Regions from separate parts of the Homo sapiens genome. Here region 2 is linked to region 1. Evidence: fine-mapped expression QTL. A gene starts in region 1. The other region holds a variant in brackets. All regions are shown on one strand. Distances are between the middles of the regions. Region 1 holds the start of FOXG1-AS1 (FOXG1 antisense RNA 1). Region 2 overlaps FOXG1-AS1 (FOXG1 antisense RNA 1).

The links. PIP is the estimated chance that this variant, and not a neighbour inherited with it, causes the effect.
Region 2: its variant is fine-mapped to the expression of FOXG1-AS1 in cerebral cortex (GTEx, PIP 0.98).

Annotation. Positions count from the first base shown.
Region 1 is chr14:28,763,892-28,766,728 of GRCh38, forward strand. It overlaps FOXG1-AS1 (FOXG1 antisense RNA 1), which reads right to left and starts at 1,428. Exons shown (of 7, transcript NR_125758.1): 1 at 1,269-1,428. RefSeq lists an enhancer at 2,027-2,551.
Region 2 is chr14:28,727,624-28,730,613 of GRCh38, forward strand. FOXG1-AS1 (FOXG1 antisense RNA 1) reads right to left here. Exons shown (of 7, transcript NR_125758.1): 5 at 1,779-1,933; 6 at 1,552-1,628. Among named protein-coding and RNA genes, the nearest start is that of FOXG1-AS1, 36 kb to the right of the region's middle. The variant A/C (reference allele first, on the strand shown) is at 1,374.

The DNA of each region.
Region 1 (2,837 bases):
CTTTGTGTATTAAATTGATCAAACAGATTTTAGGAGGCACAATGCACAATTTGTACAGACCTGATTGAGTTAATATAATATCAGCAAATTTTACATCGAAATGATTCTGTTTCTTTTCTTTGTGTTTAAAACCAGCACAGATTACAAATTTTAATGATCTGAAAATGTTTGGTATACAAAATCATGCTTATTTCAGTATTAGCAAAAACACAAGAAATTTTTCAACACAAACACCCAGCTGTGTCTATTTTAAAAGCAGTTCAATGACAGCTTGCACTTATGAGCATGCAATCAGCTAATTTCGTTTTTTTTTTCTTCTGTGTTAATCAACACTTTCCTTCCTGCATATCAGAGTACAAATAGTATAGTTACTCCACATCAGTAAATGTTTACGTAACCTGTCCTTTCCCAAGAATCCGGTTACACCGAATCATTTCACGCTAGACCGACTACGAAAACGTACCGGGCCGTCCACCTCAGAGGGAGCCCTGTGTGCCATTATAAGTGGTGGTGAGAAGGGGGGCTGTAAGAGGAGAAATTGGGAGGAGTAGGTGGAGGAATGGAGAGACAGAGGAATGGAGGGTGGGGGGAAGGGGCGGGGGGAGCTAAGGGAGAAGGAGGGAGGAGGGAGGAAGGAGAGTTGAGGAAAAGTAGGAAGAACGGGCCTGAAGAGGGGAGAAGAGTGGGAGGAGGAAAAGTGAGTAGGAAGGGGAAGGCCCACAAATCTCTCCAGCCGGTAGGCAAAGCCCATTAGCTCACCCGGCCCTGCGAGAAATCCAGAGCTTGGAAATAAATGTTTGGGACCATGTCACTATCAACACTGATTGTTGGAACCCTTGAATTTTTCCACATGTAAATACAGTTTGTTTTAAAGTGAGAAGATATGTAGACATAGGTAAAGATACATACATACAGTGGAAGGACATTTGAGGTTAGTCCAATATTCAAAGCTCCTTTGTGGCATTCCTAATAGATGCATATTTAAAATTCACTAGCTATTTGTAATTATCTATTATTCTCTCCAGTTTCCTCCCCCCCCCCCAACCTTTTCTCTCTTTCTCTTTCTTAAGACTGGGGGTGGGGAGGATGGAATAACCCCCTATTATCCTGAGTATTCATCAACCGCATTCTTTATGTTACAATTTAACTTTAGGATCAAGCATAAGCACCAATTTTCCTTCCTTCGTTTTCTTAAATACCAAATCTGCCAGATATCTTAATGAAAGTTTATCCAAGTGAAGAAATGCTTACATTTTATAATTATTTACCTTCTAGAGGAAGGAAAAGGTGCCTTTCATTTATGCTTCTCCACCTCCCTCTTCTCTGGGGCTACATCCTCCGTAAAATGTGGTATGTTTCGTGCCCATGTGGGATGAAACAGCCTTTGATCAATGTGCTCCCCACTAAATTCCAATCCCTGGGAAATGCTGGGCCTTAGCCCTGCCCCTGGCCACGGGATCCTTTTAAAGCCCCCGATTCGCAATTTCCCCATTCACTTCAACCTCCAACCGAACCTTCCCAGTTCCAAAGCCCAAGAAGCTGGGACTGTGAGATCCACGTTCCCAAGGCTCCCCGGTGCTTTCCAGCAGCACTCAGGGTTGGCAAGAGCTGGCTTCAGTATACTGTTATTTCAGGAATGAGGCCCGCACAAAATAAAAGCATTTGAGAAACGGAAAGGAAAAAAAAGGAGTGAAAATAGGAAGGCTTAAAAAAAAAACCGGAAAGAAATAGACGCCCACCCTTATTTTCCCTCCAATGTCAACAAGCAAAACGAAAATATTTCCAGGGTGATCGCTCGCAGCTACCCGCTTCCAATTCGGATTAGAAGCTGAGGCTGGAGCGGCGAGGAGAAAACGACATCGAGTCACCCCGCGCGTGAGCGACGCTCTGGAGCAGGAGAGAAGGAAAAGGAAGAGACACACGTATATAGCATGTGTTACCTGATTTATTTCGAGATTGTTTGGTACTGTTTTCTCTCTGGGCACCTCTCATTTCGGAAGGCCATCAGAGGCGCCCACTACTGAGCGGCCCCGGCCGCCGCAGCAGCACCCGGAGCCCCAGTCCCGGTTTCCCCGCGGTGCCGGAGCCCGGAGCTCGCCGCCGCCCAGGCCTCAGGAATCGAGTAAGTAACCCCTGTTTGGCCCCGCGCTCCTCTGCCCACTTCCTCCTCCTCATCTCATCGCTCCCAAAGCTCTCCCACACCCTCCTCCCCCGAAGTAAAGGACACCCCCGCACACACGCCAGCGGTGGGCCTTATCTCCCCCCTTATCCAAAGCTGCGCTAGACTATTACCTACAAAGGGCACAATTTTCCTGCTGGCTCAGAAATGCCAGACACTGGCCTGCAAGGCCGACTCGGAAAAGTAGTGCCTCGCCTCTACCTCCTCCATTTCCTGCCCTCTCGCATCCTCTCCCTGCACTCCCACTCTTCCCACTACCACCACCACCCCCGCTTTCAAAAATAAAATTGGATACAAACTTTAATCACTAAGGACAAATATTGACGCTTAAACGAAAATGACCCAGTACAATGAGGAGGAAGCCGGAAATGTGAGCTATTGGCCCTAGGAGGGGAATTTCGGTGGAGCGGAGCCGGCGGGGTGGAGGGGGTGGCGGGGGCGCAGGGAAGGGCTGCGGCACCGCGTGCTCCCGCCGGCGTATCCCTACGCGGCTCCGCGCGGCCTCGGGGTCCGAGGCCCGCGGAGAGGGGGAGGCGAGCGCCCGAGGGGGCGGCAGCCGGCGGGCGGGGCGGGGGTGGGTGGGCCCGGCCCCTCCGATTGGTCGACGGCGAGAGAGACGCTCCCGCACGCCGCCAGCTCTGATTGGCCCAGCGGTAGG
Region 2 (2,990 bases), 36 kb before region 1:
TTCTTTCATAGGTGAGAAAATTGATGTACACAAAATGACTTAAATGCAGGGAAGAGCCAAGATTACTGAATCTAGTCAGGGAGATAATTCAGATTGCAGGCAGATGCTTGGTGTTTTCAGGGTCCCTGTCTTTAAGTTATGGCCAAGTTACTAGAAAACTGGCTTCTCTGTAGAACAGTTAATAGATTTGATTTTAAAGGCATTGTTACAGCCTTTTATAAAGTTGTATTGAAACCTGCAGAAGGTCATGTCTTCAATTCCACTAAAGATACAGCACTAATAATAGACAAAAAAAGAAAATTGGTGATATCCATAGCCCTTTCTAAAGTTTGTGATGGAATCATTATGTTATCCTGATTAAAAAAAAAATTGCTCTCCTTTGGTCAATCTGCCCCAGCTATTATCTGAGAACATCTAATCAAAAAGTGCTGGGCGACATGTTCTAACAAGAAAAGATGCAGTTGTGAGTTATTAGCTGTTGGTTGACCCTTTATTTACAGTAAGGAAAAAAAACAAACTGCAGTAAGATATTCTTTGCAATAAGATATCCTTGAATTCAGGCATATTTCTTGGGCACTGGCAATTTTAAACTTTTAATCAATAAGGATATTTGTATAATCTATCTTCATTTTACTTTATGCTCATTGACAATTAGAGAACAATATTTTCATAAGAGCAAAGAAAAGACTTATTATTCTACCTAATGAATATATCTGTGTAGATGTCAAACCCTAGAATTCTATAGGAAATTTTACTTATTTTTTCCATTCCTTTTTTAATTAAAATTTCTGATTAATTGCCTTAATCTCCAATTCTCTTTGTTGATATAAATTCAACCACAGAATAAGCAGGAATTTAGGAGTACTGCAAATGAAGAGAATTTCCATGCCTCCTTGACTCCAATTTGACAAAACGGTTTTTTTTGATATTTCTTAAGATCTACTTATATCAATCCAATTATTAAAAATAACATGGACACCTAAATACAAATTTGGCAAAATATTTATATTCAAATAATCTTAATATGAACACAATTATTTTGTTACTCTCTCTTCTTTTGCCACACTAGAAAGATAGTACACCATTCCCATCTCTCACAGAACATTTTAAAGATTAAGCTCTCCGGTGCAAAAAAAAAGGTAATATCTTTGGTGGTAATAATTCAGATTCTAGTTTCAATGAGTATCAATGTCAAATATGAAAAAATAATAGAAGGAAGGTGGAGTTTAGGACAGGATGTGGAGTTCATTCCTCTGAACATGAAATAAGAAGGGTCTAAGGAGGACCCAGAGCAGTAGGAAACTTGCTGCTTATTCCTGACAGAATTCCTGAAGGAATGACCCTGAAATTGAAGAGAAGAACGGCTGTGTGGT[A/C]CAACTGAGAAGCCTGGACTAAAGGCACAAATCAGCCAAAATGAGTTGATTGCTGGATTGACCATTGTTCTTTGGCCTAAGAATAACACAGAAGCAGCAATAAGCTGATAGACCTGAAGGAGCCATTCTCACTGGTATTCAGTATTCATAGACGATTAATGGCTTGAAATTCTCCTACCTTCAAACTATGGCACAATCCTCATTGAGGCTTGGGAAGAAGTTTTGTTTCATTGTTCACTGGCTGTTCAGGCTGTGCTGCAGGACAGAATATTACACGAGTGTAGCCAATGTTAAAAGGAGGTAAATGTCACCCGGGGGTGAAAAAAAAACTGTGTATGATTCAAGGTCTCTGAGAACAGACAACACACACTCCCACCAGGTTCAAGAAGTGCAGCATCTACTCACAGTAAGAGAGGAAAGAGTGCACTAAATCCATCCCTTTGTAATGCATCTGTCTCTCACGGCTAGCAGACTCACACCACAGCCCTCATGGGCAGTGTGGCTTTATATACCCCACTTGGTGCTTCAGTGGAAGGACCTCGACCTCTCCTCTATGGTATCTGAAAAAAAATTGTGGGGAGAGGACATGTCTGAGGACTATTGAAACACCCACTTAAGCAGAACAAAGAACTACACGTTGATTCTGAAACAGCAAAAGATATTCCCACATAAGGCCATAAGCCCAGTACTTCCTGTGTGGGCCCCCTTACCTACTGGTAAGGAAGGGTTCCATGCCCATTCTTATGTGGCCCAGTGGGAGTGAAAAGACAGCACACAGGAGAATGTCTTTCCCAAAAAGCTTCAAAAAGCATAGCTTTTGAATTGATATGCCATCATCAATTTAGCTCTTCTTCTGAATAAATTTGATGTCTCCTGCTGAAGTTGAAACCTAAACACACATTCGGAGATAGCTGAAACTAATAACGAAATAGTTTCCCTCTCTAGTGTTTTTATTCTGGTATTTGCTTTTACTCCTTCTTCTTTACAATCAGCTTCCCCAATTAAAATTTAAAATCCATTCTATTTTCCTAAATATCTTTAACCAGTGTCTGTTCAAAGTGCATGACTAACCTTTATTTAAATGTGATGACCATCTACGTCTATTTTACTTCTTTCACAAACTTCTCTACATCTTCACTGCTTCTACTTCCACTACTTTTACAGTCACTTTTACTTCTCACTAGTTCTCCTTGACATTCTGAAATCAGCTTCGGTTGATGTCGATGGAAGCTAATATGTCAAAAAAGATGTATTTGTACAAAAAGGCCACTGATTACATACACCCACATATCCTAAGAATGTTTTGCTTATTATCAGTGACTCTTTATAACTATCTCTTTTTCTCATTCTTCCTTCGTCATCCTGTTTCTGCTAACCTGTTGATTTTCAAAATGTGTGTGGACACACACACAGCTACACACCTAGACACACACACAGCTGTGTACCTAGACATACACATACACACACATCGAACCAGTTCGTCCATTTTGACTTAGTGATTTACTGGGACTATTTTTATATAAAAAATTTTCAAGACTAATCGTGAATCATAAGTGTCTCTAAACTTATAGGTTCACAAGCTCACACAGTTTTATAGCCATCTAAGCTAATTGCTTG